Homo sapiens: one gene and its partners. The protein of the gene in region 6 purifies or fractionates together with the protein of the main gene of each other region. This does not show direct contact. Each region holds a gene or a part of one and is shown on either strand. Other genes may lie near its edges.

Region 1 (3,500 bases), on a different chromosome or scaffold from region 6:
TGTCTCTTCAAGGAGGCCCAGAAAGGAATAGGGATTTGCCAAGGGCCCTATACACCAGACCCGGAGTCTGCAATCCCAGTCAGCCCAAGCTTCCCAAGACCACTGGTCCCTGGAGCAGGTTGGGCAGGGCCCAGCCTCAGAGAAGGATGAGGGGACAGGGGCTCACACTACAGACACCGCAGCTCTCAGGCACCTGGAGGCCTCAGAGGATTGGCACCAACCACCTGGCACAGATGGGGAGACTGAGGCACAGAGCACTTGGCTATGGTCTTGGGGCAAGACAGGTTGAGCTAAGCCTGGGATCTAGACCTCCAGACCCTGTCCTGGGCAGCTTCTCACTGACCTGAAGGTAACACAACAGCAGCTAAGGAGAGATCAGAGGCGCCTGGAGGAGTTCAGGAAGGTGTCCTGTCACCAGCAGCTCTGATGGCCTCAGGACAAGTACCTGCCATTCTATCACCACAGAAGCCCATCTGGAAGGTTGAACAATCCTCATCTTAAACAGATGGGGAAACTGAGACTCAAAGGGTTCAATGGTTGGCCTAAGGCTACACCTGGAGCACTGGACTAATGGCCATGGACCCAGAAAGGTGGTCTGCCTGGGGCCCAGATCACTGATGAGCACGAGATTGGTCACAGCGTCAGCAAAGCAGACAGAGCTCAGGCAGCCCCCGAGGCCCTGCCCCCAGCTGCCCAGCTGGCAGCTCCAGGCTGGCCCACTGGGGGGCAGTGATCACAGCAAAGGCTGACCTCATACCCTGCAGCCCTTTCTCACCCAGGCCCGAGATGCCATCTGGGCAGGAGGAGCCCAAAGCAGGGGCTGAGCTCAGAGGCTGATCCCTGAACCAGGTCAGCTGAGGGGCAGGTGCAGTCACAATCCACAACAATCAAAACGAAGCAACTCCATGTCACACAATAATCATCTGGACAAGAAGCAGGAAGAAAAAGATTAGGTTATTAGGTTGGACCATATGAAATTGCCAGTTTTGCAGATAAAAAAATGGTTGAATACTGGCAATTTCATATGATCCAACCTAATATAAAACGGAAAAACGTACACATGGAAAAGTAAGCATGTTATTTAGAAGTACCAACAGAAATAACAGTAAGACTTTAGGTAGCTATTCTTTTCCCCTATAAGCCTTAACTTTGCAAACTACATACATGTATTCCATTGATAAAAATAAAACTTCGGCGAGGTGCGGTGGCTCATGCCTGTAATCCCAGCACTTTGGGAGGCCGAAGCAGGCGGATCACCTGAGGTTGGGAGTTCGAGACCAGCCTGACCAACATGGAGAAACCCCGTCTCTACTAAAAATACAAAATTAGCCGGGCATGGTGGCGCATGCCTGTAATCCCAGCTACTTGGGAGGCTGAAGGCAGGAGAATGGTTTGAACCTGGGAGGCGGAGATGCGCCATTGCACTCCAGCCTAGGCAACAAGAGCGAAACTGCGTCTCAAAAAGTAATAATAAAAAATAAAGCTTCAATTAAAACAAATCAGCCAATAAATCAATGAATCAATACATCAATGGGGGGGGGGAGATAAATCTTCCTTCCAGAAGAATTCCAAACAATGTAGGTAGTTATATCCCCCTCCCATAGAAGGAGCTTAATTCTTGTCCACTCTGCATCTCCTAAGCCTAGGGGGGTCTAGACTTGGTTACTCACTTCCTCCTGAGGAGCAGGGAAAGGGAAAAGAGTAACTTTACAGTGGAGAGACCTGGCCAACACTATCTTAACCACGTGGTGGAGGTTAACATCAGCTTGAAATCACGTGGCTAGCATGTAACCCCAATAGATGTGATGAGAAGGGCACTTTGCCTGGGGTATTCTTTCTAAAAACCCACAACCCCAGGATAGTCCTAAGAAAAGCATCAGACAAACCTAAACTGGGGGACAAACCTAAATTGGGTGACATTCTACAAGATACCTGGCCAGCGCTCCTCAACTGTCAAGGTCATGAGAAGTCAGAAAAGACTAAGAAGAAAAGCAGAAGACACTGGGGAGATGTGACCTTACATGTAATGTGGACCTCTCGATGGGGTCCTGGTAGAGAAAGAGGCTGTGACTGGAACAACAGGAAATCCAAATCCATTCTAGTGTTTCAGACTAATAGTAACGTATCAGGGTGAGTGTCTTAGTTTTGACAAACACATCACGGTAAAATATAAGATGTTAACAACTTAGGCAACTAGGTGGGGGCTTACAGGAACTCTGTTCTATCTCTGCAACTTTTCTATAAATCTAAAGTGATTCTAAAATAAAAAGTTTATTTAAAAAATAAATGAACTAGCTGGGAATGGTGGCTTGTGCCTGTAATTCCAGCTACTCGGGAAGCCGAGGCAAGGGGATCCCTTAAGCCCAGGAGGTCGACCTGGGCAACAGAGCAAAACTCCAGCTCTTGAAACAGGAAAAAAATTAACAGCAATGACCTATTGTTGTATGTAACAAACTCAAAATATTTTGCTGAGTGAAAGAGAGCTTTGGCAAATGTACACAAAAGATTTGCACTTTTCCCTGTATAATAAATTTTACATAAGAAAATGATACACATGCTGAAATATTTAGCAGGAAATGTACTGATGTCTGCATTTCAATTTGAAATACACTAAAAAAGTAAGATGGACTGAGGGATGATGGAAGAAGTACCTGAAGATGTGAATGGTGGACTCCCGCTGGTGGGTATGTATATGGGTGTCCAATGCTAAAGCTGTCAACTCTGCTGTGTGTGTGGAAATCTGGAGGATAAAGGGGGTGGCGGGAAGAGCCCTGTGAGCGGCTTGGGCACACAGCCCTGGGTGTCATCAGTCCTGAGTGAGCACCCTGCCCCCAGGGAGAGGACACCAGGCTGGCCGAGAGGCCTGGCCCTTTCAGAGGGAAGCCTGTAGCCAGGACAACCTCTTCTGACCTTGGGGCTTTCCATTTGGGCCGTGAGGAGAGCAGGGATTTCCCAGAGGCCCTAGGGTGCAGCCAACACAGCAGCTGCAGACCCAGAGCCCCTTTGCCCAGTCTGGACAGGGGCGAGTTGGGCAAGGGGCTGTGGAATTTGCATGGGCGAGTCAGCGGCTGTGTGATATTAAGTCTCTTCCTGTCCCCTGGGCTGCATTTTCCTCATCTGGAAAATGACAGTAATAGGCTCTAGCTTGTTACCAACAATGCTGGGCTCCTCTAGTTTTTTTTTGAGACGAAGTCTCGCTCTGTCACCCAGGCTGGAGTGCAATGGTGTGATCTCAGCTCACTGCAACCTCCGCGGTTCAAGTGATTCTCCCGCCTCAGCCTCCCGAGAAAGCTGGGACTACAAGCGTGCGCCACCACCCCTGGCTAGTTTTTTCTTTTTTTGTATTTTTAGTAGAGACGGGGTTTCACCATGATAGCCAGGATGGTCTCGATCTCCAGACCTCATGATCCGCCCACCTCAGCCTCCCAGTGCTGGTATTACAGGCATGAGCCACCGCGCCCGGCCGGGCTCCTCTAGTCTTTGTGCCAGTTAGGACCCCA
Region 2 (3,694 bases), on a different chromosome or scaffold from region 6:
AAGGAGAAGATGAAAAATTGAACATCCTGCCCAGCAAAAGGGACTTGGCGGCCGAGCCTGGGAACATGTGGATGCGATTGCCCTCAGACTCAGCAGGCATCCCCCAGGCTGGCGGAGAGGCAGAGCCACACGCCACAGCAGCTGGAAAAACAGTAGCCAGCCCCTGCAGCTCAACAGAGTCTTTGTCCCAGAGGTCTGTCACCTCCGTGAGGGATTCGGCAGATGTTGACTGTGTGCTGGACCTGTCTGTCAAGTCCAGCCTTTCAGGAGTTGAAAATCTGAACAGCTCTTATTTCTCTTCACAGGACGTGCTGAGAAGCAACCTGGTGCAGGTGAAGGTGGAGAAAGAGGCTTCCTGTGATGAGAGTGATGTTGGCACTAATGACTATGACATGGAACATAGCACTGTGAAAGAAAGTGTGAGCACTAATAACAGGGTACAGTATGAGCCGGCCCATCTGGCTCCCCTGAGGGAGGACTCGGTCTTGAGGGAGCTGGACCGGGAGGACAAAGCCAGTGATGATGAGATGATGACCCCAGAGAGCGAGCGTGTCCAGGTGGAGGGAGGCATGGAGAGCAGTCTGCTCCCCTACGTCTCCAACATCCTGAGCCCCGCGGGCCAGATCTTCATGTGCCCCCTGTGCAACAAGGTCTTCCCCAGCCCCCACATCCTGCAGATCCACCTGAGCACGCACTTCCGCGAGCAGGACGGCATCCGCAGCAAGCCCGCCGCCGATGTCAACGTGCCCACGTGCTCGCTGTGTGGGAAGACTTTCTCTTGCATGTACACCCTCAAGCGCCACGAGAGGACTCACTCGGGGGAGAAGCCCTACACATGCACCCAGTGCGGCAAGAGCTTCCAGTACTCGCACAACCTGAGCCGCCATGCCGTGGTGCACACCCGCGAGAAGCCGCACGCCTGCAAGTGGTGCGAGCGCAGGTTCACGCAGTCCGGGGACCTGTACAGACACATTCGCAAGTTCCACTGTGAGTTGGTGAACTCCTTGTCGGTCAAAAGCGAAGCACTGAGCTTGCCTACTGTCAGAGACTGGACCTTAGAAGATAGCTCTCAAGAACTTTGGAAATAATTTTATATATATATAAATAATATATATATATATACATATATATAAATAGATCTCTATATAGTTGTGGTACGGTCTAAAAGCAGTCTTGTTTCCTGGAAATAAAAAGTTGGGATATTAACTTGTTTTTGCACTTTAGAATAGCATGAGAATCTCACTAATTTAGCATTCTGATAAAAGAAACTTTAGAGCAAGTCAGAATAGAGAGGTGTTTTTCCTTTGAGGGGATAGGGGAAGTAAGCCAATAAGAACCTTTTAAACAAATCGTCCTGTCACAAAATGCTTTCATATGGCTTAATTTTGTCAACACTGCATTGTCTTTTGAGCTCTTTTTTCCCCCCCAACAAAGTTTTTTTGTTTTTTGTTTTTTTTTTTAAGTAGAAATTCCCTCCAGTTTTATTAGCCTCTTTATATGTCTCAAATTGCATGAATTTTTTCTGGCTGTTGGAAACCTGAATGCTTTTAGACCCAAATGGAAAATTTCTGAAATGCTGGATTATCTATTTTTAAACAAGCAGTTGACTTAAAACTTTCTGTGGCAACTTCTGGTTTTCTGACAGTTCCCAGTGAGAGAAATGCTGAAAGTACACTGGGATCACTGGGACACTGTCTTATGAAGGTTTGCTTGGGATGAAAAAGGATATTGCAGCTTCAGCAGTGTTGAACTGTGTGTTTAAAAATGTGAATTACTGTTATTGTATACTGTAATTGATTACATGGGCTGGGGGGGTGTCAAAGAACTTGACAGGTTGTGTTGATGCTCTTAGTTGAGTCTTGAAAAGTAAATATTAACGCTACAGAAATGCATGAGTTTCAATATATTTTTTGTCTTTGTTTGCATTGTATAACTTTAACGAGTGAGTTTAAAATTATTTAATTTCCTTAGAAAAATAACACCATTTGGAAAAAAAAACTGGTGTTATGAAGAACGTAAATGCACTGTTTTTATTTTTATTTTATATAATTTAAATTGACTTTCCCACTGTCTTTAAGTTGAAACTGTTAAGCTGAATAAAAACTTAAGCTGCAAATTGATAACTTCGCTACATAACAAGGAAAATATAAATGTTTACAAACAGCTTAAAGATTTGCATGTGCAGTGTGCATTTATAACAAACTTCTAATTGCACAAAACCCATGCCAGCTCAGAGTTTAGGTGTACACATTTACCCAGTTGAGCGTTCTTAGAATAACTACTGCACAAGTTGACAATAGGTCGTTCTCTCTTTTTTTTTGTTTGCTCCCTTTTTCTTTTTCTCCCCTTCCTCCTTACCCTCCCTCCCTTACTCTCCCCCCCCACCACCACCCTCCACCCCCAACTCATGAAAAGATTCTATGGACTGAAAAAGCCCCAGGCTGAAAGGACTGGACTGCCTTGATTGACATGGGGAAGGGGGTTAGTAGACTATGTGGATTGCGGCAGCAGAGGCTGCAGCCTAACGTGTGGTTTTAATGACCAGCACGCAAGGCAAAAGCATTTTGCACAGTGTTTGTTTTCCTGTCTTGCACTTACAAATAAGGTCTATGGGAGTAGCATGGAAAACGTTTGCTGTTTTTCCCTTTTTTTTTTAATTGCTTTTGTTTAAAATTTGATCGCCTTAACTACTGTAAACATAGCCTATTTTTGTGCTTAAGATACTGAATGGAAAACTCCATTGTGTGTTGCTGGACTGTTTTGGAAATATTTGGTTAAATGTGTGTTAATTTGGCTGTAATGGCATTTAAAGCAAACAAACAAACAAAAAAAGCTGTGAAAATGGCCTTGGAGCATTATCTTTAGTTACTTGAAGAGTTTCTAGTTTTTTTAAAATACAGTTTATGTTAAAATAATTTTTATTAATTTAGAGAAGACAATCAATGTCTGTGAGAAAACGGACTTTCTTTTGGATTTTCTTTTTGTGGTCATTGTGAGTGATTGCTTTTTCCTTTTCTTAGTTTCACATTCTTCCTTTGTTCTAAAACTTAGACTGACATCTAGCTTTGACAATCATAGTATGTTTTATTTTCCTGAGGGGGAATAACTTATAATGCTGTTTAGTTTTGTACTATTGGTGTGTTGGTGAATTTTTAAACTGTGTGCTAACTGCAATAAATTATATGAACTGAGAATTTCTTGTGTGTATTTTTTATTGTGATTATGTAGTGTATAGATTCTAAATATGTATCATACCTGGCATCTTTAATATCAATTCTATTCGGAGTTTATGAAATTATTAGAATGCCTTAAATCACTCGAGTGGAAAATGTGTAAGCATTCTAGTCACTTAAGAAGATACTAAATGCACATTTAAAAAATGCGACCCATTTTCACAATCTACATCAAGAATGTTGAGGTAATTCCCTAGAAACTCATGAATCATGAAACTACGTGGCAGCATAGGTTGTTAAAAATACACTGTACAACTACTAATCCATATACCGTAAGTCACTTTTCGTGTGTAATTTTATCCTAAGTTGATCGGTCAAATCTATTCTCCTGTGTTCTGGTTTAAGTGGAAAATTGAAGGAGACCGGATGTTTTAATTTGGAAGACTGCTTGGCTAATGACTGGAATTCTAGGCAATTGAATTAGCAGGCATGCAATTGTTCACGATTAGCTATATACATCC
Region 3 (3,500 bases), on a different chromosome or scaffold from region 6:
GCAAACTGTATAATACTTGGTGAGGTAGATTAGGCCAAACCATAACAGCTTTTTCCACAGTTGGTTTTAGTTTTGAATGGATTGTCATATATATAGATAATTTTATGTTAGTATATACAAGTGTAAGAAATTTCCCTACTGAAAAAGGAGCAAATCAAGCAATATTTCAGGAGTAAATCATCTAGTGGCATCTATATTAATATTAAGGAAACACATAGCTTACTCTAAAAACAACTCTCACATTTCATTCTACAACCATTTGAGCACTGATTTAGCCAGATACTTTCCTAGGTGCTAGGTATTCAACACTGAACAAGACAGACATTCACCTCAGGTACAGAGAATCATAGTTGGGATGAGGGTGGATAAAAAACACAACAACATATTTTACAAAGATGGGATAGCTCTGGGGTTATGGACCTGCTCTTCTAGATGGAGGGAGTAGGAGACATTTCTCTGAAGGGACGCCTCTAGGTGAGATCTGAATGATAGAAGGAACTAGCTTAGGCAAAGAGCAGAGGGAAGATTATTCCCAGGAATGGGTATGGCATATGCATAAGCCCCAGTTTGGAAAGGAGCTTGGTGTACTTAAGGAGCAGAATGGTGACCAGGGTCAAGCATAGTGAAAGGGAATGTAGGATGAGCTGAGTAAGAGGGGCAGGCTGAAGCCAGGTCATGCAGGGCCTGTGGCCACAGGAAAGAAGTTGGAAGTGATCAGCACACACAAGGAGAAGGTGACCCTTAGGAGAGGAGATTGGAGAGGGCAAGAATGGATGAAGTGAGTTGAGGCTTAGAGTGGTAGCTTGTGTCAGGTGGCAGCAGTGGGGATGTGGGGATGGAGAGGCTGAGTGGATTTTAAATATGTTATGAAGGTAGGCTTGGCCAAGGTGAAGGAGAAGAAGGATTCATTAATAAAAACTTACAAGTTTCTGGTTTGAGTACATGATGGATCTTGGTACTTGTTATTGCCTTGGGCAAGAGAAAATTAAGGATTCTGTATAAATCTTGTTGGGTTTGAGATGCAGACTTTGTAGAACTGTCACAGTGGATGCTGTATTAGTCCATTCTTGCATTGCTATAAAGGAATACTTGAGACTGGGTAATTTATAAAGAAAAGATGTTTAATTGGCTCATGGTTCTACAGGCTGTACAGGAAGGATGATGCTGGCATCTGCTTGGCTTCTGGGGAGGCTTCAGGAAACTTATAATCATGGTGGAAGGCGAAGGGGAAGCACATAACATCACATGGCCAGAGTAGGAGCAAGAGAGAAGGATGGAGGTGCCACACACTGTTAAACAACCAAATCTCCTGAGAGATCACTCATTATCAAGAGAATAGCACCAAGTGGATGGTGCTAAACTATTCATGAGAATCCGCCCCCATGATCCACTCTCTTTCCACCAGACCCCACCTCCAGCATTAGGGATTACAATTTGTTAGGAATAATGCTTACAATTTTAAGAAATTGAACACTTGAACAAAGGATATTTAGCAAAGCAATTTTATTTTTGCGCAGAGAGGTGCCTTTTTGGCCAGTCGCCATGAGAGCACACTTGAACAAAGGAGTACGAGAGCCTTTATTTTTGACGCAAGTCTTGCCCCTGTATCCTTTTTTTATTGGCTGGGGTCAGGTGTATAAACTAATTTTAGTTGGCTAAACATTTGAATTTTTTTAGATAAGGTGGGCACATAGAAGAAAGAGGAAAGGGGAAAGGGTGTCTGTAGTGAGTCAGAAAGTTGTTTTTTTTTTTTTAAATAAGGAAAGGAATGTGAGTTGGTACTGATAATGGCTGGTATTGTGGCATGCCTGCGCATTTAACAAAGGCAGAAAGGAAAAAGGAAAAAAAGAGGGGGTGGTTAACTCTGAATTAAAAGATTGATTAGGCTATTTGAAGGGAAACCTTATCATATCTCACAAATTGAACATACGATTTGGGTGGGGATACAGATTCAAAGCATATCAGATGCATGGAAATGGGTCCCCATGAAGAATTCAGGAACACAAAAAAACCTACAGACAATGTTGAGGTGAGGGGAACACCTAGAAAGAAGGAAAAAGAGAAGAGTACTTGGGGATGAGTCATGGGCCACCCCCAAATTAAGAAACTGTGTTGAGAAGTCAGCCAAAGGAAACTGAAAATGAGTACCAGAGAGGCAACATGAAAACCAAGGTCTGCCATTTTCCAGAAGCCAAATGAGTGTTCAAGAAGAAGGGCGTAGTCTCTTGTATCCCATGTTACTAAGAGGCGAAGGGAGATCAGGTCTGAGACATGGACATTGAATGAAACATGGTGAGGTCATCATGGCCTTGACAATCTGTTCCTGTAGTGGTGAGGGTGGAAGCCAGATTTTAATCGATTAAAGGTACAGTAGAGAAGAAACAGCATGTGTAGAGTAATCTGGAGAAATTTATCTGTGAAGCTGGAGGGTCATGTGAGGTCCAGGGATACTCTTTTTAAAGGGTAAAAGAGAGTAGAGCATGTTCATATGCCAGTGAGACTGTTCTAGGAGAGAGAGAGAAGTTGCTCGTGCAGGAAGGGAGGATGAGAGAAAGAACCAAGTCCTAATAAGACAAAATGGATAGGATCCAAGGCACAAGTGGAGGAATTGGACTGTGATAAGAGAGTTAGACTTTTCCTGTCATAACAAGAGAAGGTGGATGCAGGTGGACACCAGGCTCAGATTTGGTAGTGGGAAGATGAGAGAAAGCACATGGTGGCTTCTGATTTCACAGTGACATATGAGGAGTGCTTGTTAGCTGAGTACATGGGGATGGGAAGATGTGTACGTTTTGAAGAGAAGGAAAAGGAAATGAGCTATTTTCTTAGAGCTTAGAAAGTGCTGGACAGTATTACGTGTCCACTTAGGTTTGGGACTATGAAGCAGAAAGAACTGTCATCTGGTTATGTGATGTTTTTTCCCTGGAGACATTCAGCTGCTCAGTGTTGAGATTTTTGCCGGGTAGGCACAATGAAAGGAGAAAGGGCCAAGGAGTTGGAATAGATTTACAGCAGAGTGATTCAAATGATAGCCACTGAATCTAAGCTCTGTAAGAACAGATATGAATCTGGGAGAGGGGGCAATATTTAGCAAGAAGTGGAGGGAAATAGACCAGTCCTCCTGACCTGATTTTCATTTTTTTTTTATAGTATATATGATCACTGTTTCTTCTCTTTATTTTTTTTTAAGGATGTCTGGAATGGCTGGTCTTTTTAGCATCTCTGGCAAGATATGGGTAAGTAATCTTAAATAAAACGTTTATATTTGCAGAGAGGTTAAGAATAAAAATACAGCTTTTAAGCAATAGGAAAACAAACATTTATAAGTACATTTATAATTTCACTTTTTTTCTTAAGCCATGCAACTACTCTCATGTGGGGTTTCCAGTGGTAATGTCGTCATGTAGAAGGGCATAATCTGAACAGTAACCTGTAACTACTGTGTCGAGGTCTTATTTTCTTAAATCAGTGGTGAAGTCTTTCATCCAAGCAAAACGGCT
Region 4 (3,500 bases), on a different chromosome or scaffold from region 6:
GTGATTTTAGATACAGTAATGCAAATATAATACCATCAATGTGTAAAGTGAGACTTTTGTTATACTCAACACAAACCAGAACGTATTTGGAATACTATCCACAGTTTTGAACATTACATTTTAAGAAATAGGAGGACTAGAAGTATCTTAAGAAGACCAGAAGATATTTAACCTGGAGAAAAACAGGAAAGTTGACTTAAACATTGTAGAAAAGCAATTAAACTGTTTACCAAAGAGAATCAGGTCAGGCCTGGTGGTTCACACCTATAATCCCAGCATTTGGGAGGCCAAGGCAGGAAAATCACTTGAGCCCAGATGTTTGAGACCAACCTGGGCAACACAGTTGGACCCCGATTCTACAAAAAATATGAAAATTAGTCAGGTGCCGTGGTGCATGCCTGTAGTCCCAGCTACTCAGGAGGCTGAGGCAGGAGGATCCCTCCCAAAAGGTCAAGGCTGCAGTGAGCCACGATGGTGCCACTGAACTCCAGTCTGGGTAATGGAGTGAGACCCTGTCTCAACAAACAAACAAACAAACAAACAAACAAAACCAAAGAGTTAGAATCAGAACCAATGGGCAGGCCATAGAGGGAGAAAGATATAATCAACATTGAACAGCAAAATTAAAAGCTTACTAACAGGAATGTCTAAAGTTTTGTTTTTTTAATTTTAGAGACAGGGTCTTGCTCTGTCACCCAGGCTGGAGTGCAGTGACACAATCATAGCCCACTGTAACTTCAAATTCTTGGACTCAAGCCATCCTTCCACCTCGGCCTCCCAAAGCCCTGGGATTATAGGCATGAGCCACTGTGCCTGGCCTGAGTGTCTGAAGATTTGAATAATCAAACTGACAACCTCAAAAAGTAGAGAATTTGTCTGTCACGGAGAAGTGAATCAACGCTTGGTGGGAACTCGGGTATCTGACAGAAGGTTGACAACATGACCAGGTGCAGTGGCTCACACCTGTAATCCTAGCACTTTGGGAGGCCAAGGCCAGTGGATCACCTGAGGTCAGGAGTTCGAGACCAACCTGTCCAACATGGTGAAACCCCATCTCTACCAAAAACACAAAAATTAGCCAGGTGTGGTGGTGTGCGCTTGTAATCCAGCTACTCCAGAGGCTGAGGCAGGAGAAATGCTTGAACCCAGGAGGCAGAGGTTGCAGTGCCAAGATCGCACCACTGCACTCCAGCCTGGGCGACAGAGTGAGATTCCATCTGAAAATAAAAAGAAGGCTGACTACATGATCCCAAATGAGATTTACTGATGTGATTCGAAACTTGTAGGCCAGGCGCAGTGGCTCACACCTGTAATTCCAACACTTTGGGAGGCCGAGGTGGGTGGATCACCTGAGGTCAGGAGTTCAAGACCAGCCTGACCAACATGGTGAAACCCCGTCTCTCCCAAAAATACAAAAAATTAACCGGGCGTGGTGGTACAAACCTGTAGTCCCAGCTACTTGGGAAGCTGAGACAGGACAATTGCTTGAACCCGAGGGGTGGAGGTTGCAGTGGGCCAAGATCGCGCCACTGCACTCCAGCCTGGTCAAAAGAGCAAGACTCTTGTCTCAAAACAAAAAAACAAAAAACCTGTAACCTCTGACCCCAGGTAGTGCTTAAGAAATAGCACTTTGTAGGCTGGGTGTGGTGGCTTACACCTGTAATCCCAGCACTTTGGGAGGCTGAGGTGAGCGGATTACTTGAGGTCAAGAGTTCAAGACCAGCCTGGCCAATGTGGTGAAACCCTGTTTCTACTAAAAATACAAAAATTAGCCAGGTATGGTGGCGCGTGCCTGTAATCCCAGCTACTCGAGACACTGCGGCAGGAGAATCTCTTGAACCCGGGAGGCAGAGATTGCAGTAAGTCAAAGATCACGCCACTGCACTCCAGCCTGGGCAACAGGGCAAGACTCCATCTCAAAAAAAAAAAAAAAAAGCACTTTGTGACAATAATGAAACAGGTCACAGAAAAAAGATTTGGCTACTTTATAGGACACAGAGCCTATTCCACAGCAGAAACAAACTGGGGAAAAGTTCAACAGTCCTTTTTCATAAGACTTTTCTAAAGTTAATCAAATCCCTCATGTCAGCCTCTCACCTGAAAAGACGCTGTGTGTTTTGATGCTTAAGTGTTGTCAGAGGCCAATTCATCAACAGCAATAGTGAGGTAATGGAATTCTTCATTTATTTGAAAATTCTGTAGTTTGTTAATACACCTGCCCTCTGAGGTTTAAAAGGCACAGATTTTCTCAGACCATAAACTTTCTAACTGTATCAACATGGGATGAAGTGTTTTTTGTTTCACAACACAGTTTGTTCTATAGCCCTTACAGATAACAGTGGGCTCAAATGGTTATCCAGTTGAAAAGATAAGGCAAAATGAAGACACTTTCAAAATGGTGACTGACAATTCACTCAATGAACACAGGAGTTCCTATTGTGTGAAGGTGTATGGTTGGATGCTGTGGGGATTATAGTGATGGCTAAAACTAGAACCCAGCTTTTATGGAGCAGTTTCCTCTAGGGGAGATAAGGTACACCACACATCAACAGCCCTAAAAGGGAATGCCATAGATCTCCCAAGAGAAGAGTGCAATGAAGTTTAAAAGGATGACTTTTGGCTGAGTAGAATCAGAGAAAGCTTCATGGAAAATGAAACACTGTACCTGGATCTTAGAAGGATAAGCTGAAGTTGAAGAGGTTGAGACAAAAGACAAAGGGAATGTCCAGCTGATGGAATGTTCTAAGCAAAGGCAGGGCCATGGAAGAGTTCAGGATGTTAAGGTAACAATGAATACCTAGATTGTGGGGAGGACAGGGTATAGGATGCAGAAAACTGAAGCCAGAAAGGTCATGAAGAGCTTTGAAATGACTTGCTAAGAAAAAGTATGGACTTTGCTCAGCAGAGAGTGGCCAGCTACTGGAAGAAGATTCGCTCCTTAGCACTGACCGGAGATGAGTCTCTGAGAAGTTAACCTTTTCTTCCCAGCCTCAATCCTATAATTAAATATACAAATATCACCAGGGCTGGAAAAGGACAAATTTGGTGAATATAGTCATGTACCACATAACAATTTTGGTCAGCAAGAGACCACACATATGAGAGTGGTCCCATAAGATTATAATGGAGCAGAAAAATTCCTATCACCTGGTCTAGATGATCCTGACCTGGTAGAGGCCTAGGCTAATGTGAGTGTTTGAGTCACAGTTTGGTTTTTGTTTTTTTCAGAGACAGGTTCTCACTTTGTCACCCAGACTGCAGTGCTGTGATACAATCACATCTCACTGTAACCTCAAACTCTTGGACTCAAGCTATCCTCCTGCCTCGGCATCCTAAGTAGCTAGGACTACGGGTGCACGCCACTGAGCCCGGCTAATTTTTTAAATTTTTTTGTAGAGGCAGGGTCTCACCATCTTGCCCAGGCTGGTCTCGAATTCCTGGGCTCAAGTGATCTACCTTGGCCTCCCAAAGTGCTAAGATACAGGCACGAGCCACTGCGC
Region 5 (3,500 bases), on a different chromosome or scaffold from region 6:
GAATATAAAGATGAGGTAGAAGGGGCTAGATAGTCACAAAATAAATAATCAGCTTAAGTTGACTCTGCATATATATTGAGGGGTAAGTTTGGAAACCCTGAGTCTGGACTGTGTTCTTGAAATAAGTATCATTTATTGCATTTTTAAAATAGCCACACTACTGAGGACATGTTTTCTTTGGCGTTGTCTCTTTCAGATCTTAAATGCTGCCTATCATGTTGAAGTCACGTTTCACTCAGGGTCGTCAGTTACAAGGATGCTATGGGAGCAAATCAAACAGGTAGGGATTATTACTTAGAGAAAGATTTCAAAGCCCCTAGTTGGCTCAAATGAATCATAGTGACCCCAGTAGGAAACAGATATCTAGGATCTTCTGTTAAGGCAGGGTGACCATTTGTTCTGGTTTGCCTGCCTGGGAGAATTCTGGTTTATGCCTATTCTTAAATAATTATTAACATTGTTCCCTTGAACTCTCAGAAGTTTTGGGTTTAAATGATTTTTATGTTGGGTGCTCTTTGTGGACAATGGAAAAATAGAAAAAAAAGATAAATGATATTTCATGGAGCCATAAGACTCTACCACACTAGCTTCTTCATATTTCTTTTTCCCAGCCTAAATCTTTTCTCAGAACTAGGCTTTGTTGTTGCCAGAGGCTGTGAATGTGGTTTCTGTTCTGGAATTTGATCTGGCTCTTATGTAGAGTTATTTACTGACTTCAGAAAGATTATCAGGCACTCCCTGGCACTGAATGTAATATATTGAGGGTTTGTGAGCATGTAGACTAGGCCTGGTGTTCTTTGATGCTTTTCTCTGGGCTAGGACCTGATTTTGTGGTAGATGGAATTGGAAAGGAACTTTGGACTTCGTATGGCTCCCATCTTATGAGCCTGCTCTTAATGAATGGGTAACCCAGAAAAGGAAGGACACTGGATCTTTGTAGTGGTTCTTGTCTCTCATTCCTTGGTGATCTCGCTGTCTTCATCCTGGTAGATCATCCAGCGCATCACATGGGTGAGCCCACCTGCCATCACTCTGGAATGGAAGAGGAAGGTGGCCCAGGAAGCCATTGAGAGCCTCAGCGCCTCCAAATTGGCTAAGAGCATTTGCAGCCAATTCCGGACTCGGCTCAATAGTTCCCACGAGGCTTTTGCAGCCTCCTTGCGGCAGGTTGGTATGTAGGAAAGGAGATACAGCTGGATCAAGCAGAGAAGAGCCTCATCCAGATGGGAATATTTCGCTCTCCGCTCTTCATATATAATATGTGTGTGTGTCTGTGTGTGTATACATATATATACACATATATATACACACACACACATATGTATATTAAAATCATCAGTATATTTTCTTTCTAGATTGTTATAGGAAGTTTTTTCAATAAATTTTTCATGTGGATATTTTCCTAACTCTCGGGAGAATGGAGTGAGCTCAGTTAATTCCTGCCCATTTCAGAGTGAGGAAAGATAATAGGAGTAGGAATTTTGTATGTTTATATAGTATTTTAGGAACAAATGACAGAAGGACATGACTTTCCAACTTCTATATTTCATAATTGTTTGACATCTGATTGTCCACTGGCGGGGAGTGGGTGTGTCCAGGCAGAGAGTGGATAGATGTGAGTATGCATCCAGGAGGAAAAGTTATTATTTATTGAGAGTCTACTCTGTGCCAGTCTCTGTGCTAAACATGTTACATGTATCTTGTTTAATTCTCACAATTATCTATATGAAGTAGATATTATTATCCCTGTATAACAGGTGAGGAAGCTGAAGCTAGGGACTTAAGTCATATGTACTTTTTCTGTTTCTCTCCCAGCTGGAAGCTGGCCACTCAGGCCGGTTAGAGAAAACGGAAGATCTATGGCTGAGGGTTCGGAAAGATCATGCTCCCCGCCTGGCCCGCCTTTCTCTGGAAAGCTGTTCTTTACAGGATGTCTTGCTTCATCGTGAGTCTGGTTTTCTTCTAGATAAACTGGAGGATGGTTCAGGATACCTGACATTCTTATGTCCAGCCTCAGAGAATCCTAGTGTCTAAAGCTGCTTCTTTGCAAAGCTGCCTAAACCCTTACTGATGTTTTTGAATTCCTAAAGTCTCTTCCTGCTATTTATATAGTTCAAATAACATGACCAGGCCAGGTGTGGTGGCTCACACCTGTAATCTTAGTACTTTGGGAGGCTGAGGTGGGTGGACTGCCTGAGCTCAGAAGTTCAAGACCAGCCTAGGCGATATGGCAAGACCCCATCTCTACTAAAAAAATTAGCTGGGCGTGGTGGCACTTTGCAACCCCAGCTCCTCAGGAGGCTCAGGCAGAAGATTCACTTGAACCCAGGAAGTAGAGGTTGCAGTGAGCCAAGATCATACCACTGCACTGCAGCCTGGGTGACAGAGCAAGACTCTGTCTCCAAAAAAAAAAACAACAAAAAACAAAAAACCACATAACCACAGTTTATTTGAATTAAACCAGTTAGATTATTTTCTATTGGGTTAGAATGACACTAGAATTTTATCCCTGGGCTTGATTACAGCTTCCTGACCCTAAAGGCAGGTTCACAATGAAGAATGTTACAGGGCCAGCATGGTGGCTTATGCCTGTAATCCCAGTACTTTGGGAGGCCACGGTGGGTGGATCACTTGAGCCCAGGAGTTCGGGACCACCCTGGGCAATGTGGCAAAACCCCGTCTCTAATAAAACTGTAAAAATTAGCTGTGCGTGGTGGCGTATGCCTGTAATCCCAACTACTTGGGAGCCTGAGGCAGAATAATCGCTTGAACCCAGGAGGCAGAGGTTGCAGTGAGCAGAGATCATGCCACTGCACTCCTGCTTGGGTGACAGAACAAGACTCTGTCTCAAAAAAAAAAAAAAAGAATCTTACAGAGGTTGCCCACGAAGTTCCCATTCCTCCTGCCTTATCTCTGTCTCTGTACCTTATAGGTAAACCTAAACTGGGACAGGAACTGGGCCGGGGCCAGTATGGTGTGGTATACCTGTGTGACAACTGGGGAGGACACTTCCCTTGTGCCCTCAAATCAGTTGTCCCTCCAGATGAGAAGCACTGGAATGATCTGGCTTTGGAATTTCACTATATGAGGTGGGTCCTGGCCTCATTCATCTCTATGAGAAAGATCCAGAGAAGAATCTAGAACCCTGGTTTAGATTTTGTACCAAGAGCTACAGCATGGCCTCTCTATATTTAGTTTTCTGTGTCTAACAGACATGTGCTCCCTTTCAGGCCTTTACTGTCTTTGCTTGCTCTTTCCCCACCATCCTAATTTCTCAGACTCATCATTCCATTTAACTTTCTTCTTTAGTCCTTAAGCCTTATCAGTTTTTAGAATCCAGGATTCTTCATCCTTGTTGAAGAGGCCATGCTCTGTCTGTACTGAGGGCTCTGTCTGCACTGAGGGCCATTACCTCTGGACCTGTCCTAAGCATGGTCTGGAAATTATTGTCTCATACATTGTGGCATGGCATGCAGGATTAGAGCCCAAGCCTTGTAGCC
Region 6 (4,293 bases):
GACCTTCTGACCAAACAGCAGCCAATGAAGGAATCTTAAAAGGCACATCACTTTATATTTATTCAGTGGTTATGTCATCACTTAATCCTCACCACAACCTTGTGAGTTCAGTAGAATTTGTGTTTTCATTTTATCTGTGAACAAATGGAGGCAGAGAGTTTGAGTAATTTACAAGTAAGTGGCAGATCCGGGGGCTGTGCCTAGACAATGTGGCTCCAGACTCCTTGCCCCTCCCTGCCTTCTGCTGCATCTTGATTGAGTCTAGCCATCTATTTCTTTAACACACACTAATTGCTGTCTCCATGTTCCAGGCCCTGTGCCAGATGCTAGAAATACATCCCCATCCACTGGATCTTGGCATGGTCCATTGCTCAGTGTCCTGCTATGTTACGTGTTACATAATGCATTTATTCCGGTATTTAGCCCATGGAAAATAATGCTGAAAGACATTGTATGCATGTTTCTACAACAAAACTATGTAACTTATGTTTCTTTTATTGCTTTGGCTATCAGGAAGCTCTTATCCAAATCAGAGCAAATACATTAGAATTTGGGCTTGTCATTTCAGTTTGCTGAACTTTTCCTTCTGGCCCAGATTTTCTATTTTGGTTCATAAATTCTATTGCACAAATGTCCTTTATTGTAAAACACCTTAAATTCTTTCTAAGGGAAGGCTGCATGGAAATGATACAGTAAGGTCTTCCCTGCATTTTCTTAGATTCCTATTAGGGAAGGCAGACCTAGATGTCCCTCTTACCCTCAGTCCCAAAGCCCCCCATTTATAAAATCCCTTAAGCAGTGACTACTGCTGTTCTGAGTACCTGGAGGTAGTTCAGAGCTTCTGAAAGGTAACATCCATATACAAAAAGAAGTTCCTTCCGATCCAGATCCCAGCTTTGGTGCCAGATGCACATTTGAGGAGTAGGTGGCTAGTCAGACTCTCACCTGAGCAGTTAATAAAATCTATTGCCCCTTAATGGAATTTTTTCTGCAAGCTCGAATTGATCTGTCATCTTTGTGATTTGTGAGATGGCAGGGAAGCACCAAACACCATCATGACTTGGGCCACAGTGGGGGGAAAAAAGGAAAAAAGAAAAAAAAAATCCACTGCCAAGCCTTGCCAGGCGTAGAAAGGGCTGGAACTGCTGGGGCCATTTTATCTGATTTATTGGAAATAGAGTGGATCTTATTAACATTTTAATAAAGAGAATCTTTTTGCACTAGGCTGGAAGTGGCCGCCAGTCCCCCGTGCAATTCCATTCTCTGGAAAAGTGGAATCAGCTGGCATTGCCCAGCGTGATTTGTGAGGCTGAGCCCCAACAGTCCAAAGAAGCAAATGGGATGCCACCTCCGCGGGGCTCGCTCCTCGCGAGGTGCTCACCCCGTATCTGCCATGCAAAACGAGGGAGCGTTAGGAAGGAATCCGTCTTGTAAAGCCATTGGTCCTGGTCATCAGCCTCTACCCAATGCTTTCGTGATGCTGCTGCTGATCTATTTGGGAAGTTGGCTGGCTGGCGAGGCAGAGCCTCTCCTCAAAGCCTGGCTCCCACGGAAAATATGCTCAGTGCAGCCGCGTGCATGAATGAAAACGCCGCCGGGCGCTTCTAGTCGGACAAAATGCAGCCGAGAACTCCGCTCGTTCTGTGCGTTCTCCTGTCCCAGGTAGGGAAGAGGGGCTGCCGGGCGCGCTCTGCGCCCCGTTTCTGCATTCGGATCGCCCGGCACGGGCAGGGTGAGGGGGCTTTCGGGGGGTCGGGGCCTCCGGTCGCGGCGGCGAAGACAGATCGGGGCTCGGTAGGGAGGTCATTCCGAGCCCAGAGATCCTAGGCACCCCCCACACACAGGCTCCCACTCTGGCGTGCGTGTGTGTGTGTGTGTGTGTGTGTGTGTGTGTGTGTGTGTGTGTACGTTCGTTAACGGGAGGAGGAGAGAGCTCCCAGTCCTTTTTTGCTAGCAGGGGCGACATTCTCGCCCACATCAAGTGGGGTAACTTTGGTTCCCTCCTCCGGAGGCTCGGTGCATTGGAGAAAGACTCAGTTAGAGGCGACTCCAACGAGCCGCGGTTTTCCCCAGCCCAACGCCCAGCGGCCGAAGCGCTGCTCGGGTCCGGATTGCGGGATGCGGGGCTGGAGAGGCCGAGCAGGCACCACCGACTTCCCAGGGCGCCCGGGCCCCCTGGTACAGCCCGGCTGCCCGCTGGAAGGCGCCTCGGGGCAGCAGAGAGCCTCAGCCCGGCTGCTGCTGTCGCTCAAAGGCGCCGGCGCCGGCCGCACCCGCATCGGGGTCCTTTTGCTCCCAGACCCCGGGCCCGAAAGGGCCGGAGCGTGTCCCCCGCCAGGGCGCAGGCCCCAGCCCCCCGCACCCCTATTGTCCAGCCAGCTGGAGCTCCGGCCAGATCCCGGGCTGCCGCCTCTGCTGCCTTCCCTGAGCGGGAGCGGAGCGCAGAGAAAAGTTCAAGCCTTGCCCACCCGGGCTGCAGCTGCTTGTTAACCCTCAGAGCGCCACGGCGCGAGGGAAGGGCACGCCAACCAGGAGAGGGGGCGAGGGAGATGCGGTCCGCCTGCAGTCACCTCTGCACCTCAGAGATTTCGGGAAGTTTGAGTGCAGGAAAGCAGCGCTCCGAGGCCAGGCCTGGGGTGCTGGCCGCTGCGGGGGGCACGCCCTGCGCTGCTCAGGGGCCTGTGGTTTCGGAGAGCACCCCGATCCAGTCCCCCATCGCCTCTCTGGCAGGCGTTGGGACTTGGAGTGAGCTGGCAGCCTGCAAGTGGGTGGATAAGAGCCAGGGCAGGGCAGGGCCGGGCAGAGTAAGGAGGGAAAGAGACAGGGAGTGCCTCAGGGTGCTAGGAATGAGTGTTGAGTTCCTGGCCGGGGTAGAGGCTCAGGTGAGAGTTTGCGGGTGAAAGGCAGGGGAAGGGAGTTGGGTTCCCAGGTAGGGACTGTCTGGGATGGGGAGACTGGTGCAGACTTCTAAGGGAGACCACTGTTAGAGCAATGTTGGGTTTAGACTTTGGAAATGGGCTAACATCTCAGAAATGCAGTGATGGGTGATAGTACCAGGGGAGATTCAAGTGCCCGGCTGCTGAGCCCGCTCCCAAGCTCCTGACTTCTTTCTTGGATATACAGTCCCGATTAAGGACTGCCCAGTTATAGCTCCTTTTCTACCAGGCTTTTCTGGTTGATTATCTTGGGGTCCCTACAGCCTTGAGTCTTGCCATGGATCCCAAGCCTGGCTGTGAACCAGTTTTCCAGATGTCCTGTACCCTAGAGACCCCAAGGCTGTATGTGTGTACATATACCCCAATTTAGCAAGGCGGTTTGGAGCATGCCTCAGACAGAAAGGATTCAGACAGATCCTTCCTGCCATCTGCTAGTGGTACCAACCCGGGCAAGTTGTTTAACCTCTTTGAGCTTCCAAGTTCTCCATTGTAAAATAATCTGCTGCCTTCCTAGGACTGCTGAGTGGATAGGATTGCATTCAACAGGATGTCCTATGCAATGCATGCCAGTCTGGGAGCTGTCGGTGTCTGAGAGCACTTACCATTGCCTTGTCCAGGACTTCACAGTCCTCTTTCTTTCTTGGCAGGTTTCAACCTCAGTTCATATTCCAGGGCTTGCCCAAAGTTATGCCTCCTTTAAAGCAAGACAGACCACGTGACAGGGCCCCAGGATCGATTTTTATGCACTAAGGGCTCTGCGCACGGTTCTTTTTGCAAATGAACTGGTGTGTCTCCTCACCCAGGGCCAGGCTGGCACAGGTGGGTTCTGAAGGCTCACTCTATTTATTTAGATGAAGGAAGCAGAGATTTTGCTGTGAATTGAAATGATTGCCCTGAGAGGCTTATTTCTATTTTCAATTGTTATGCATATCAGAGCAAATGTCCACATTAGGATAGTAATTGATATCCTGGTAGCAATAGTACCTCACAGAGAAATCATTTTGATGCAATCCAGTTAACCAGCAAGAAGTTCACGTGCAGAACTCTGTGTGCCATAGAAAAAAGTGGGGAAAGTCTTCGAGGCCTTGAGTCGACGAGCAAAAACACAACTTTCCTGAGGCAGAGAGAAAACAGAAGGGAAAAACAATGTAATAAAACAAATTAGTCACTCGGCCCTGGTGGTGTTCAGGCAAGCCTGTATGTTTTTTTCCACCACAGTTGTAAAGCATCGGGTCTGGCTTTGGAAGCCATCAATCTCTGTAAGCTTATTGGCTTGGTTGTTGTTTTAGGCATTTTGGTAGGAGGTGAGGAATTCTAAGCAACAATGACTGGAAGCTGGCACCGTTGAACAGTCACC
Region 7 (3,500 bases), on a different chromosome or scaffold from region 6:
GACCAGCCTGGGCAACATGGGGAAACCACATCTCTACAAATACAAAAATGAGCTGGGCGTGGTGGCGTGTGCCTGTGGTTCCAGCTGCTCAGGAGGCTGAGGTGGGAGGATTGCCTAAGCCCAGTAGTTGGGGGCTGCAGTGAGCTGAGATCATGCCACAACACTCCAGCCTGGGTGGCAGAATAAGAGTCCCTGTCTCCAAAAGAAAAGTGGGAATTTTAGGGTCTTATTCCCTTAGCAACTTTTTTTTTAGGGCAGTAATGTGATCTCGGCTCGCTGCAGCCTCCACCTCCCAGGTTCAAGTGATCCGCCTGCTTCAGCCTCCGAGTAGCTGGGATTACAGGCATGCACCACCATGCCTGGCTGATTTTTGTATTTTTAGTAGAGATGGCATTTCACCATATTGGCCAGGCTGGTCTTGAACTCCTGAGCTCAAGCGATCCGTCCACCGCAGCCTCCCAAAGTTCCCTTCACAACTTTTAACATTGCTTAGAAATGTCTTTTTCTCTTAATAGATTCCAAAAGATGAGCATATTCTTCGGTTCCTCCGTGCACGGGATTTTAATATTGACAAAGCCAGAGAGATCATGTGTCAGTCTTTGACGTGGAGAAAGCAGCATCAGGTAGACTACATTCTTGAAACCTGGACCCCTCCTCAGGTCCTTCAGGATTACTACGCGGGAGGCTGGCATCATCACGACAAAGGTACCGGATGGAGTTGAAACTGTGTTTCCATCGTTGTCTTGATGTGTGGTTGAAGATATCTTCCAAGGCCTCCTTCCCTGGAGTTGAGTGGGGCCCCCTTGAGTGCATCGTTTCTCCTCACTCTGAGAATTTGGCACCTTTCCCAAGTTGAACAGACTGATACGTGTCACCACGGGCACACTCCCGTCCCGCCCCGGGCAGCCAGGAAGGGCCTGGGACTGCTCTTTCCTCATGGACACACGTCATCCTTGGGCAAATGACTTCACTTGCTCGGTGCAGTACAGTTTGTTTTGACCTATTAAAAAGACAGCAGTGCCTCTGGCAGAGTATTTTCAGTAGTGCAGTGTTAATAAAGGGACTTTTCAATGACTTAAACCCTATGATAGCTTAAAACGGTTCAGCCCGGTTTTCTACATCACAGCCCTGAGCACTTCAGTTCTGCTTTGGGAGTAAGTAAGGCCTGGATGAAGGGGGGCGATGCACCTGAAATGAAGAGTGGTTTAAATGAGAACCTTAAAACACAGTTCCCCCAAATGCCTTCCATACCCTGCCTTGCAGGAAGACCTGCACTGTCAAAAATACACTCTTTCCTGAGCCAAAGTTTGAGAGCCGGGCAGGATGGAATTGGAAACGTCGGCGAGAGGGAAGCACCGTAGAACTGGTTCTTTTACCCTCTGAACAAGTCCTTGCAGAACCGAGCAGCTCAGCTTTGTCTGTGATTATGACTTCATCTTTTGTATTGTTAAAAAGTTTGGTAGTAAGACATTGACAAATGTGTCTTTTTTTTTTTTTTTTGAGACAGAGTCTCGCTCTGTCCCCAAGGCTGGAGTCCAGTGGCAAGATCTCAGCCTACTGCACCCTCCACCTTCCGGGTTCAAGCAATTCTCCCGCCTCAGCCTCCCGAGTAGTTGGGACTACAGGTGTGCACCACCACGCCCGGCTACTTTTTGTATTTTTAGTAGAGATGGGGTTTCACCATATTGGCCAGGCTGGTCTCGAACTCCTGACCTCGTGATCTGCCCACCTTGGCCTCCAAAAGTGCAGGAATTACAGGCGTGAGCCATTGCGCCCGGCCTCAACAAATGTGTCTTATTAAACGTTGGGAGAAACTTTCTGTAAATAGGCCTTTCCGTAAGATTTTGGAGCACATAAAAATGTTTTGCTTTAAGTAGACCAGGTCTAGAGCTAGACTCTCCTGGGAGATGAAGTTCACTAGGTGACAAATACAAGATAAATGTTACCCTCTAACCCTCTGCCCCATGCTGGGACGACACTGCTGGTCTTCTGGTAACCACCGAAGACAAGTCTTGGTTCCTTTTCAGGAGCACAATCGTCTGTATTCCTCCTGCTGCGCCTTCTGGGACTGTGCGGCAGGAGGCTAGGCAGTGCTGACTCTAGGGATACACTATGGCCACCAAGCTCTTTTTCCCCTTTGTGTAGATGGCCCATGATGATAGGGCAGTATGATAGGAGTTAGGCTCCTCTCAGGCGGCACCCATTAGACCTCCAGGCTATAAAGAAGTAGAGTCAGGCCAGGCCCAGTGGCTCATGCCCGTAATCCCAGCATTTTGGGAGGCCAAGGCAGGAGGATGGCTTGGACCCAGGACTTCAAGACTAGCCTGGGCAACACAGTGAGTTGTTGTCTCTACTTAAAAAAAAAGGAGGCTGGGCGCGGTGGCTCACACCTGTAATCCCAGCACTTTGGGAGGCTGAAGCGGGTGGATCACCTGAGATCAGGAGTTCAAGACCATCCTGGCCAGCATGGTGAAACCCCGTCTCTACTAAAAATACAAAAATTAGCTGGGCGTGGTGGCACACACCTGTAGTCCCAGCTATTCGGGAGGCTGAGGCAGGAGAATCGCTTGAACCTGGGAGGCGGAGGTTGCAGTGAGCCGAGATCGTGCCAGTGCACTCCAGCCTGGCGACAGAGCAAGACTTCGTCTCAAATAAAAAACAAAAAAGGAGGCCCAGCACAGTGGCTCACGCCTATAATCCTAGAAGTTTGGGAGGCGGAGGCAGGCGGATTGCCTGAGCTCAGGATTTTGAGACCAGCCTGGGCAACACGGTGAAACCCTGTCTCTAGTAAAATACAAAAAATTAGCCGGGCATGGCAGCGTGCGCCTGTAGTTCCAGCTACTTGGGAGGCTGAGGCAGGAGAATTGCTTGAACCTGCAGGCAGAGGTTGCAGTGAGCTGAGATCGTGCCACTGCACTCCAGCTTGGGTGACAGGGAGAGACTCTCTCTCTAAAAAAAATAAAAAAATAAAAAAAAAAAAAAAACAGAGTAGAGCCAACACAGGCTGCTTGGTGGGGTTTTAAGGATTTTTAGAATGTTCTCATTTGTCTTGGTCCTTAGAGTGGGAATTGAGGGAAGCTGGCTTTTAAAAAGCTTTCATTCAGTTTTTAGTAATCTATGACATGAAAAAAAATGATTTTCTAAGAAAGAAAATTTTAAAAGTACTCTGTAGTCATAGAAAAAGTGTCTGGATAGTTTGATGTTCCCTTGCCGTTGAAAATCAGAGCTCTTGGGCAGCCCCAGTTGTTCAAAGTGAGCCCAGCTTATGGGCAGTTGTTCAGACTGAGCCCAGCACTTATGCAGCTCGAGCTGAGTGAGTCCCAGCCGGATTCCCCTCATCCCGGCACAGCCTTCTATTTCCAGGACCCTGCACAGCTACCCTGTCAGTTGGTTTTTATTTTTCTCGCTTACAGCTTTTTGGGGTAAATATTGGACACACACCCCCTATCACACAAATCAGTTGCCACTTCTAAGAATCAGAAAGACTTTTAAGCGCCCCT

What was found.
Region 1: the proteins of CDH13 (region 6) and PIGU purify together in Homo sapiens (affinity purification with mass spectrometry; one large-scale study listed by BioGRID and IntAct). This does not show direct contact.
Region 2: the proteins of CDH13 (region 6) and ZBTB18 purify together in Homo sapiens (co-immunoprecipitation; one large-scale study listed by IntAct). This does not show direct contact.
Region 3: the proteins of CDH13 (region 6) and TMX4 purify together in Homo sapiens (affinity purification with mass spectrometry; one large-scale study listed by BioGRID and IntAct). This does not show direct contact.
Region 4: the proteins of CDH13 (region 6) and UQCC1 purify together in Homo sapiens (affinity purification with mass spectrometry; one large-scale study listed by BioGRID and IntAct). This does not show direct contact.
Region 5: the proteins of CDH13 (region 6) and DSTYK purify together in Homo sapiens (affinity purification with mass spectrometry; 2 studies listed by BioGRID and IntAct, with this or other methods). This does not show direct contact.
Region 7: the proteins of CDH13 (region 6) and SEC14L1 purify together in Homo sapiens (affinity purification with mass spectrometry; 2 studies listed by BioGRID and IntAct, with this or other methods). This does not show direct contact.

Annotation. Positions count from the first base shown.
Region 1 is NC_000020.11:34,562,093-34,565,592, forward strand, and holds part of PIGU (GPI-anchor transamidase component PIGU), read right to left. Parts: intron 1-3,500. UniProt on the Homo sapiens protein: Component of the glycosylphosphatidylinositol-anchor (GPI-anchor) transamidase (GPI-T) complex that catalyzes the formation of the linkage between a proprotein and a GPI-anchor and participates in GPI anchored protein biosynthesis.
Region 2 is NC_000001.11:244,054,283-244,057,976, forward strand, and holds the end of ZBTB18 (zinc finger and BTB domain-containing protein 18), read left to right. Parts: coding exon 1-1,088; 3' UTR 1,089-3,194; downstream 3,195-3,694.
Region 3 is NC_000020.11:7,995,762-7,999,261, reverse strand, and holds part of TMX4 (thioredoxin-related transmembrane protein 4 precursor), read left to right. Parts: intron 1-3,190; coding exon 3,191-3,236; intron 3,237-3,500.
Region 4 is NC_000020.11:35,349,474-35,352,973, forward strand, and holds part of UQCC1 (ubiquinol-cytochrome c reductase complex assembly factor 1), read right to left. Parts: intron 1-3,500. UniProt on the Homo sapiens protein: Required for the assembly of the ubiquinol-cytochrome c reductase complex (mitochondrial respiratory chain complex III or cytochrome b-c1 complex). Involved in cytochrome b translation and/or stability.
Region 5 is NC_000001.11:205,159,703-205,163,202, reverse strand, and holds part of DSTYK (dual serine/threonine and tyrosine protein kinase), read left to right. Parts: intron 1-196; coding exon 197-280; intron 281-990; coding exon 991-1,167; intron 1,168-1,815; coding exon 1,816-1,945; intron 1,946-2,932; coding exon 2,933-3,089; intron 3,090-3,500. UniProt on the Homo sapiens protein: Acts as a positive regulator of ERK phosphorylation downstream of fibroblast growth factor-receptor activation. Involved in the regulation of both caspase-dependent apoptosis and caspase-independent cell death.
Region 6 is NC_000016.10:82,625,476-82,629,768, forward strand, and holds the start of CDH13 (cadherin-13 isoform 1 preproprotein), read left to right. Parts: upstream 1-1,493; 5' UTR 1,494-1,582; coding exon of another isoform or gene 1,583-1,617; coding exon 1,618-1,662; intron 1,663-4,293.
Region 7 is NC_000017.11:77,199,969-77,203,468, forward strand, and holds part of SEC14L1 (SEC14-like protein 1), read left to right. Parts: intron 1-515; coding exon 516-705; intron 706-3,500.